4 separate regions of the Homo sapiens genome follow, and all the other regions are linked to region 1. The links come from fine-mapping of genetic effects on gene expression. A gene starts in region 1. Each other region holds a variant in brackets. All regions are shown on one strand. Distances are between the middles of the regions.

What was found. PIP is the estimated chance that this variant, and not a neighbour inherited with it, causes the effect. A credible set is the group of variants that fine-mapping cannot tell apart.
Region 2: its variant is the best candidate, but not a certain one, in a credible set for the expression of TSPAN14 in aorta (GTEx, PIP 0.80).
Region 3: its variant is the best candidate, but not a certain one, in a credible set for the expression of TSPAN14 in nucleus accumbens (GTEx, PIP 0.55).
Region 4: its variant is the best candidate, but not a certain one, in a credible set for the expression of TSPAN14 in visceral fat (GTEx, PIP 0.60).

The regions. Positions count from the first base shown.
Region 1 is chr10:80,452,880-80,455,481 of GRCh38, reverse strand. TSPAN14 (tetraspanin 14) reads right to left here and starts at 1,172. Exons shown (of 9, transcript NM_030927.4): 1 at 1,111-1,172. RefSeq lists enhancers at 57-106, 137-396, 346-863, 1,607-1,816 and a silencer at 527-1,576.
Region 2 is chr10:80,522,365-80,524,966 of GRCh38, reverse strand. It overlaps TSPAN14 (tetraspanin 14), which reads right to left. Exons shown (of 9, transcript NM_030927.4): 9 at 2,336-2,602. Among named protein-coding and RNA genes, the nearest start is that of TSPAN14-AS1, 12 kb to the left of the region's middle. RefSeq lists an enhancer at 1,822-1,901. The variant G/A (reference allele first, on the strand shown) is at 1,468.
Region 3 is chr10:80,514,525-80,517,126 of GRCh38, reverse strand. TSPAN14 (tetraspanin 14) reads right to left here. Exons shown (of 9, transcript NM_030927.4): 8 at 804-923. Among named protein-coding and RNA genes, the nearest start is that of TSPAN14-AS1, 20 kb to the left of the region's middle. The variant C/A (reference allele first, on the strand shown) is at 1,088.
Region 4 is chr10:80,483,096-80,485,697 of GRCh38, reverse strand. The region is part of intron 1 of TSPAN14 (tetraspanin 14); the gene reads right to left. Among named protein-coding and RNA genes, the nearest start is that of TSPAN14, 30 kb to the right of the region's middle. The variant C/T (reference allele first, on the strand shown) is at 1,498.

The DNA of each region.
Region 1 (2,602 bases):
AGAGCAACTCCCTCTCGGAAGGGAGGAAGATCCCCTGGAGAGCAGACCACTGCCAAGAGCACACCTGCAGAGGCTCCAATACAATGCTCTGCACAGCCGCCCAGCACCGCCTGACCTCCCGGATAGCAGCGCCAGCACAGCCAACGAGTGTGTGACACCGCCGCACTCACCACCGCTCTGCGCCCAGCCCCAGGCCAGTACCCGGGCCCACGACTTCCCCCGACTCCCCCTAGCACGGACTGTTTCTCGCCGGAGATCAACTTTAAGTCCCCAAGACAAGTGCTCCTGCGGTCCCAGGGCCAAAGTCCCTCCACACACCCTCACACAGGCACTTCCTACCCACCCGCACCCCACCCCTGGGGGTGGAGGAGAAGCAGCAGCGGCCCGGGACAAGCACAGTCCGCAGCCACAAACCTCACTCTACCAGAACTCCGGCTAGGTCAGGGGTCAGGCTTTGCTCCCAAACACAACCCCACACGACTAACGCGGAGAAGCTGGGTCACCGCCTACTCAAACTCCGGCCGTCCCAAACCCAAGCCGGGCAGAGTGGGACCCACGGCGGCGTGGGAGACTGAGCACAACCACGGCGGGGCAGGAGGAAGGGGCGGCCCGCCCCGGCCTACGCCCACCCCCACCCCGGACCCGATCTCCTGGGAGCCGAGGGTGGGTGACTGAGCCGAAAGGGTGGCCCATCCCCGAGCTCGCTGCTGGGGACGAGAAGCAGAGCCCCGAGCAGCAGCGGCCGTCCAGGCTCCCGTCGCCCTCACCCCGCCCGGCACGGGCGCGCACTCGCCGGGGCGCGCTGATGGGGCGAGGGCTACCGAACCAGGAGTGCCGGCCCCGGGCCCGCCGCGGCTCTCGTCCGCGCGGCGCCGGAGTTCGGCTCAGCGGGGTCCCGGCGGAGGCCTCCAACCTCTAGCGAGCAATCCTGGCAGACAAAGCCAGCGCCGCCCGCGGGGCCGCTCCTGGGCAGGCGGGGAGGGAGGCTGAGGGGCCAAACAGGGACCTAAGGAGCAGCCCTCGCCCCCGGAGAACGCTCGGGGAAGTCGGCCTCAGACAAAGAAAGGGGCAGGGCCCGACGCCCCAGCCAGGTCTCCGCGCTCTACTCACCCGCGCGCGGCGGCGGCAGCGGCGGCGCGGCCCGGCTCGGCCGAGGAAGTTAGAGCAAGTTCCGCGGCGCGGGGCGGGAGGGCGCGACTCGGGCCGTCCGAGCGGCGGGGGCGGGGCGCGGAGGGGCGCGGAGGGGCGGGGCCGGAGGCGCGGCGCCTGCCGTCTGCCGAGGAAGGGGCGCCGCTTCCCTGCGCCGCCCGGTGCGGCCCCGGGCGCCTGGGCCCGCCCTGGCCCCGCCCCTCCCCCAGCCGCCTCGCCCCTCCCCCACCGCACCCCGCCTCCCGGCCCGCGCGGCACCGGGGACCGCGAGGCCGGGTCGCCGGCCCGCCCCTTTGTCCCGCTCTGGGCGGTGCCGGAGGCTTGGGGCGGCCCCGGTCCGCGCCCTCCCAGTGGGTGCGCGGCGCAGGCCGGGCCTGGCCCGGGGCCGGGCACTTGTAGCCGCCGGGAGCGCTCTGAGCCGTTGCGCTGCGCAGACGCCGCTCTGGCCTTGTCGGAGCCGAACCTGGGAGAAGCACGAGCTGTGGGAGGCGGCGTCTCGAGGGATACACGGGATGACCGTGGAGAGCGGGCGAAGGATTAGGAAAATGGCTGTGGTGGAGATAAGAGGCGTTCCTGCCCGGCTTTGGAGCCTGGGGGCGGGGGTAGTCTTCAATCAAAAGAAGGATGGGGAAAAGGTTTTTATTTCTTTGTAAACCAAGGAGTAAGGACACGCTCCTTCTGGCCTTGGTGCTAAAAATACCAAGCTTTCTTTGGATCGTGGCTGAGATTTCTTCCTAACCTTTACGCTAAAGAGGTGGCTGGGACGATTCTTGTGGTGTAGGGGGGTTTCCAGGGACAGCCAGGGGTGGCGCCCCTCTTTGGATCGTGGCTGAGATTTGTTCCTCACCTTTACGCTAAAGAGATGGCTGGGACGATTCCTGTGGGGTAGAGGGGTTTCCAGGGATAGCCAGGGGCGGCTCCCCAGCCTCAGCCTCCCTACCTGTAGAATGAAGCATGCCACACCTCTGTTTCTTAAACTTATTCGGTGGCTGAGGGCCGAGTGGTCTTCTCTGTTGAGTAACACCAAACAGGGATCTATTAAAACTGGGCTAAGACTGGTTGCCACATGCCAGTACAAGCAACCAACAGGTTAATTCCAATGGAAGGAGGAAATCTTGAAATGGAGACTGTTCAGTCCATTCCCAGGTTTGTTTGGGTTGTTTTTTGAGCTAAGGTATCGCTTTGTCACCCAGGCTGGAGTGCAGTGGCATGACCATGGCTCACTGCAGCCTCGACCTCCCGCCTCAGCTTCCCCAAGTAGCTGGGACCACAGGTGCAGGCCACCACACCTAGCTAATTTTTTTTTTTTTTTTTTTGTAGAGACGAGATCTTGCTGTGTTGCCAGTGATGGTCTTAAATTCCTGGGCTTAAGCAATCCTTCCGCCTCTGCCTCCCAGAGTGCTGGAATTACACGCATGAGCCACGGTGCCTGGCTAATTTTATTTGTTTGTTT
Region 2 (2,602 bases), 69 kb before region 1:
ACGGGAAGGACCACTACCTCTCAGAGATGGAAAGGCTTGCCATGGTCCACGCAGCACAAAGCCCACCCCCAGCCATATCATCCCAGACAGGAAGGGTGTAGCCTGGGCTTGCATACCTCCAAGGACAGGGTGCTCAGTCCCTCCTAGAGGCCACTTCACTTCTTCCCATATTGGCTCACAGCTGTGACTTTAAAACACAGAACGAGTGCATATCTAAAACTAGAAGAAAACACTATGGTCCTTCCTGCTGACAGCTGAGTGCTTGGGCCTAAATCAGCATCTACACACGCGGCCTGCAACCCTGGGTTCCATGCAAAGGCAGTGTGGCTGAATTGGCTGCAGGTGGAGTGAGGAGAGAGGCCAACACAGGCTCACGGTAACACTTCCACTGCCTCAGAACAAAACCCTGGATTTCCTGACCTTCCAGCAGTCCATGTGTATTTTCAAATACCAGGTTTTTCTCAGGGCACCAGGGCAAGCCGAGCAAGGCCCACACACGCTAGTCTCACACATGTCCCCCAGCACTGCCCCCAGGTTCCCAGCCCTGCTGAGCTGTCCTCACAGACACGGACACCCTCCCTCATAGGAGGTGCGGAGGAGCACCCAGTCCCGGTCTGAGGCCTCAGGCAAGTCCCAGCACACCCCAGGGCCTCTGTTCTCCTTATGAGTGGGACCAGATGGGGTCCACCAACCGTCCAAACGTGATATGCTGCTGTCTTCAGGGCACATTATCCCCAGCGTTGATGTTCACAATAATCCCCTTTCTCCCCACAGACCATCCCTCCTGGGCCCCAGGCCTCTGTGGCCTACCCTGGCCCCTTGGCAGTTGATGGCCACTCTGCTGCTTCTGGGGGCTCCCGGGCAACTTTGGTTGTGTTGGTTTCTGGTAGCATCTGCGCTCCAGGCAAGAAGCAACACCCTACCTTGTCTCCCCACCTCTATGGCACAGAAAGAGAACAGACCTTGAACTCCAAATGCCTGCTGAGGCTTGCCACAGACCTCGAAGCCTTGTTCCTAAAGGGACAGGGAAGTGGACCGTTTCGTTTCAGTGATTCAAAGCTTGAGCTATCTGACATGTGACCCAGGCAGCTCTCTCGTAGGGACTGGCAGCCACAGATAAAATTCCCCAATCATTAAAATTATGTTAGCAATAATTCAGGGGATGCATACTAAATAATCTGGATCTTTGTTAGATGCTTACCCATCTCAACTCATTTAATCCTTGAAACAACCTCACAGGGGTAGGAGGTTTTGTCACCTTATACCCACACACACCAGCAGTGGTCAGGCAGCAACAGGTACACCCCAGCCCTGAGTACCTACTTATTAAAATGTGATCCCCCATCCTGGCTAACACGGTGAAACCCCGTCTCTACTAAAAATACAAAAAAAATTAGCCGGGCGTAGTGGCGGGCGCCTGTAGTCCCAGCTACTCGGGAGGCTGAGGCAGGAGAATGGCGTGAACCC[G/A]GGAGGCGGAGCTTGCAGTGAGCCGAGATTGCGCCACTGCACTCCCGCCTGGGCCACAGAGCGAGACTCCGTCTCAAAAAAAAAAAAAAAAAAAAATGTGATCCCACCTCCCAGGAGAACTCCTCTAAAAACATGTTTTTTTCTTACAAACTGTAAGAAGCAATTCCAATAACACTGTAGTTTATATATATATATATATGTCCTTGTAAGTGCAAAACCCTGCAAAAAACTGTAACACCCATCCACAGAAGTGCAATGGCAATAGCTGACAGCATCCCCGGCCTTCATCCCCCTCCTGGAGGATGCTGCATTTCACAGCCGCATGGTTTCAGTGGGATAAAGCATGAGGAGGGGTGTGTCCGGGGATCCCTTCCCTTGCTGGCTTCACCACCACACCACCCATCAGGGGGAGGCTCGGGGTTTGTCTGTGGTAGACTCCTTCCCTCCACCATAGATGAAGGGGAGGCTGTGGAAGGCAGAGAAATGGAAACAAGATCCTGTTGACGTCACTGAGCCACTTGGATCAACCCAAACCTGAAACTCACCCCACCTTGGGACTTTCCAGTTTCAAGAGCCAAAACCTCCCCTCATTGTTTAGGCCAGTCTGAATTGGGTTTTCTATTACCTGCAACTGTAAATGGACTCCTCTGGTACAAAGGCAAGGCCCATCTGTTCTTGGCACACTCCTACAACTGATGGCGTGACCGTGAAAACGCACTGTGGATCAGTATATTAAGTAACACTCATAAAATAGTATGTAAAATGATTCCATGGGTGTGATGACCTGAGTAGATGCATGGACATTTTCAGGAAGGATTCCTAATAGTAGTTACCTCTGCGTAACAGAAGACATACTTTCACTTTTCACTTTACATTCTCTTATGTTTAGATTTTTATTTAAGTGTACTTTTTAAAAAGACTAGTTTAAAAGTTGTTTTATACAGTCCAAGGTGATAATTTATTGTAGTAGTTTTTTTTTAATTTTATTTTTTGAGATGGAGTCTCCTGTCACCCAGGCCGGAGCGCAGTGGCTCGATCTTGGCTCGTTGCAACCTCTGTCTCCCGGGTTCAAGCGATTCTCCTGCCTCAGCCTCCCGAGCAGCTGGGACTACAGGTGCACATCACCATGCCCGAC
Region 3 (2,602 bases), 62 kb before region 1:
AAACACTTTCTAAATGGTGTTATTTTCCACACAAGAAATGCATCAGTGGACCCAGAAGCTGCGGCTTCTTGGAAGCCCTGAACAGCACTGGAAAGACTCCTGGTTTCTCTGATCACTGAATTCTTGACTTTCTCTGCCAGTTCTTCTCCTAGCAGTCACCAACCAGCCCAGTCACCCCAGGCCTCACTGCCTGCTCAGCCACCAACATCCTCCCACATGTGCAACCTGGTTCAAATGAACAAGCACAGCCTGGGAGAGGAAAGGATGCCACAAACGGCAGCAGGCCTCAGAGGATGTCTCATGGACAGGGAAGATACCTGACAACTCCAGCCCAGGGGCCAGAGACAGGAGGAGAGGTCCTGGGGCAAGTGCACACACGTGAGCCTCAGGCCACCCTCAGGCCCCAGGTGACCAAGGGTTTCACCTCCCCATCTGCAGCACTTGATGGCCCACCCCGAGCACACTCCTGACCTACCTCCAGATAGGCAGTGACCCTTCTGCAGCCCATTGGGCCCTCTGGAGAGGGCTGCCACCAGGACCTGTGCAGGGCCACAAGCCCCTCCCAGCCTGCCCCCGCCCAGAGGGCCCCCCTATAGGTAGCGTTTATGGAAGCCACCATTCTCCTCCCCAATACACTTACACGCATACACTCTCTCAGCCTTGGACATCCAGTTGAATCCCTTTTTTTCTTCTGCAAGCTTCCTTAATACCATACCCAAACTGGACCCATGCACTCTATGTTAAGGGCCCAATCTCAAATGAAAAAAGGCCACCTGCCAATCCTATAGGCTCCTGGGACACACCTGCAACAGCGAGATGGCGATGAAGACGCCAGCCACAATGTAAATGTTCCGCGGGAGCCAGCTTTCCAGCGCCTGGATGCAGCCTTTCGTGAAGATGGACTCATCCCACTTGCTCTTCAGCTGCAGGAAAACACCACAGGGGTCTGAGCCTTTGGCACACACGATGTCCCCACCTGATCCCCTAGTGAGCTCTGGTAAGGAGCAGGGCAAAGCAGGGTGGGAACGAGGGATCCAGGAGGCAGGCAAGGAGGACTCTCCAGGAGATGCTCGTCAGCTCCTCTCAG[C/A]CTCTGCCCCTCGCTGGGCACTGTGCCATCGCACCACCTGTCTGACCAAAGGCTCCCTGGCTGTTTCCTTTCAGGTCTCCAGAGATTTAAAGCCCAACTTTCTCAAGATACCCTTCCCCACCATCCACATCTGGAGAAAGAGAAGGGGCTTGAAGGCTTGGAGGAAAATGTGCCTCTAAAGGGAGAGAAACCTGGAGAAGGGGGTCCAGAGTCTCCTAAGAAGAGAAGAAGGGTGCTTCTCGGAGCGGGCATCCCACCAGTAAGCTCAGCTCCAGGAGACAGAGCCAGCAGGCAACAGTCGCCAGCCAACCAGCTCCCTCCACTGCTAACCCCGGTGGGGTGTCAGTAACCATCCCAGCACACACCCCAGCCCTGCCCACCCCACACAGGGCAATCGGCCCCAGCCCCCTCACACCTATCAGCCTCCTCCATGGCAACATGATGGAGTATTAGCCCCTAATTTTAGAGGTGTTAGGAGCTAAATTGTGTCCTCAAAATCCATACACTGAAGTCCTAACCCCCAGGACTTCAGAAGGTGACTGTATTTGTAGACAGGCTCTTTACAGAGGTAATTATGCTAAAATGAGGCCATCAGGGTGCCCCCTAATCCAATATGAAGAGCATCCTGCTAAGAGGAGGAGATCAGGACACAGACATGCACAGAGGGGAGCCCACGTGAGGACACAGGGAGAGGACAGCCACCTGCAGCCAGGAGAGAGGCCTGGAACAGACCCTTCCATCACAGCCCTCTGAAGGCACCCACCTCACCTCGCCAGCACCTTGATCTTGGACTTCTAGCCTCCAAACTGTGAGAAAATAAATGCCTGCTGTGGCTTAAATTTCTGTCTGTGGTATGTTGTGACAGCAGCCTTAGCAAATTAATATAAGTGGCAAAAAAAATCATAATTAGGGAAGCTGATGTTGATATAGGTTCTTATCTTAGTCCATTCAGGCAACTAGAATAAAATACTATAGATTAGGTGGCTTATAAACAACAGAAATTTATTTCTCACAGTCCTGGAGGCCGGGAAGTTCAAGATCAGGACACTGGCAAATTCAGTGTCGGATGAGGGCCCACTTTCTGGTTCATGGATGGCACCCTCTCACTGTGTCTTCACACAGTGGAGTGACAAATAAGCTCTCTGGGCCTCTTACATAAGGACACTCATCCCACTCATAAGGACTCTGCCCTCATGACCCAATCCCCTCCCCAAGACCCCACCTCTTAAATACCATCACATTGGAGTTTAAGTTCCAACATGTGAATTTTGGAGAGACACACACATTCAGTTTACAGCACTTTCTCCCTGTGAAATGCAGGTCCCTAAAGGAGGACAGTTCCCCAAGCTGTAGGGACACATCCCTCATATCCACGGCTAACAGGTGGGGTCTCTGAAGATTCCTCGAGACTCCTCCCTTTTAGAACAGCAGTCATTCATATCACCAAAGACCACTAGAACAAGGACTGGAGTGGGGTGGGGTCTTCCTTCTCTTTGCATCTAAGAGCACACTCCC
Region 4 (2,602 bases), 30 kb before region 1:
ATCTGTCCCTCTCTGCTGTGTTGGCCAGCGGGTTGGAAAGCAGGTCCTGACCCTCTGTGGGGCTGGCAGATCCTGGTCTCCACATAGTTTAAGCTGAAGAAGGTAAATGGGAGACTCATTAGGACTCCAGCCTAAGCCACATCCTCCTACACAGTGTAAGGTGGCCTTCTGACTGTGGAGGGGTAATGATGGAGCTGCACAACAGGTATGGCTCGGAGGCTTCAGAACCCCAAGGGAGGAAAAAAGGACTGAGCGCTCCTGAGCCACCAACGGAGCTACTAGGGCATTTACACAAAAATGCAGGAAGGCTGATAAAGGCAGTAGTGCTGAAACTAGAACCCAGATCTGACCCAAAATGATTCCCAAAATGACCATGGTCCCTAGCATCTCACCTCATTTGCTAAACCACATCATACTGAAGGAAGGCAGAAGTTAGCCCTCTATGAGCAGATGCATCCACAAAGAACACCAACACTCTTTATCTTACACACACACACGCACGCATGACTAAGAACCTTCCTAAAAGTAGAGATGGGTAAACTTTTCACAAATGTTAGGTACCATTCCAGCAGAGAAGAATCTCCAAAAGCTATTTTGTGTGCCTAGAAAAAAAATTAGGATCTCAAACTGTCTCAACTCTAAGAATGTGATAGAAAATAAAGCATCAGTGTGGCAGGAAGGAGGCACATGTTTATCAAAATACCAACTTCTCAAAACAGGGCAAAGGGAGAATTGTTTAACAGTAGTGAGATAACTGGTTAGCAACTTGAGGGGAGTTAAATAATAAGCAAATAACAACTTACAGATTTAAAGGGCATATGCACATACATGCACACACCACACCCAGAGAACAGGGTTTTCAAGTCCATTTTACCCACCTTCAACTTTTGAGGCAACAGGAAAAAACAATTCAAAGCACAAGACTACCAAGCCTGAACAGATAACAAATCTAAAAAATCCCCATGAATAAAAGTAACATTAAAATAAAAAAGGAAACACAAATGTTATCTGCAGCTGAAAAAATTATGACACAGTAAATATCTGCAACCTATAGAGACCCATACTTCAAAAAGACCCCCGTTGTACACAAATGAACAAAGGATATGAACATTATACACAAAGGAAAGAATAACAAAGGGAAGAATAACGTAACAAATGGAAAAATAAGCCTGTGCAACAAGGCCAAACACCATCTCTACAAAAAGTACAAAAATTAGCTGGGTGTGGTGACTGAAGTCCCAGCTACGTGGGAGGCTGAGGCGGGATAATCGCTTGAGCCTGGGAGGTCCAGGCTGTGATGAACAGTGATGACACCACTGCACTCCAGTCTGGGTGACAGAGCAAGACCCGGTCTTTAAAAAATAAAAAAATTTAAAAAAAAGGAAAAATTTTCAATGTCACTAGAAATAAAACTTAAAGACAACCCAGATATACTATTTTACACTTTTTTTTTTTTTAAACAAGTCCTGCTCTGTTGCCCAAGCTGGAGTGCAGTGG[C/T]GCACTCAGCTCACTGCAACCTCCGCCTCCCTGGTTCAAGTGATTCTCTAGCCTCAGCCTCTGGAGTAGCTGGGACCACAGGTGCATGCCACCAGGCCTGGCTAATTTTTGTATTTTTTGTACAAACGGGGTTTCATCATGTTGCCCAGGCTGGTTTTGAACTCCTGAGCTCAAAGCAATCCGCCCACCTTGGCCTTCCAAAGTGCTGAGATTACAGGCGTGAGTCACCGTGCCTGGCCTATTTTACACTTTTTTTTTTTTTTTTTTTTTTTTTTTTTTTTTTTTTTTTGAGACAAGAGTTTTGCTCTTGTTGCCCAGGCTGGAGTGCAATGGTGCAATCTTGGCTCACTGCAACCTCCGCCTCCCGGGTTCAAGTGATTATCCTGCCTCAGCCTACTGAGTAGCTGAGATTACAGGCGACCGACACCATGTCCAACTAATTTTTGTATTTTTAGTAGAGACAGGAGTTTCACCATGTTGGCCAGGCTGATCTCGAACTACTGACCTTGGGTGATCTGCCCATCTCAGCCTCCCAAAGTGCTGGGATTATAGGCATAAGCCACCATACCCGGCCTACTTTACACTTTTTAATTTAACAAAATTGCCACCACTATTGTGGCAAACACATTTATTCCTTGTTGGCAGCAGATGAAACGGTTACTACCATTTGGTAGCAATATGGTTACATTTACCACCCAAAAAAAGGTCACACCCTTAATCAATAAACTAATGACTAAGAATTTGCCTCCAGAAAAAGAATACACATTAAGTGAAACATGAACCTCATGGTTTGCAATTATGAGACAATTTGTAAGCATGTGCTTAAAGGCCAAAGTGGAATGTTAAGAGCATGAAAATGGCTGCATGGGGTGGTGGTGGACTTACAAGTGATTTTCCAAAAAGGTTTCCAGCATCACACTTACCATTACCACCTTTGTATTATAAATGAAAATGGGGCCGCTGCTGGTTGGAGGTGCCCCTGCTGGGAAGGAGAATGCTTGCTACAATATATAAGGCTGGCAGTCATCATAAACAGGGCTCCTTGGCTTCAGTGTTGTACTCACCTTTAATATTCCTCCCTCCTGCCCTTTTTTAAATTAAAAAA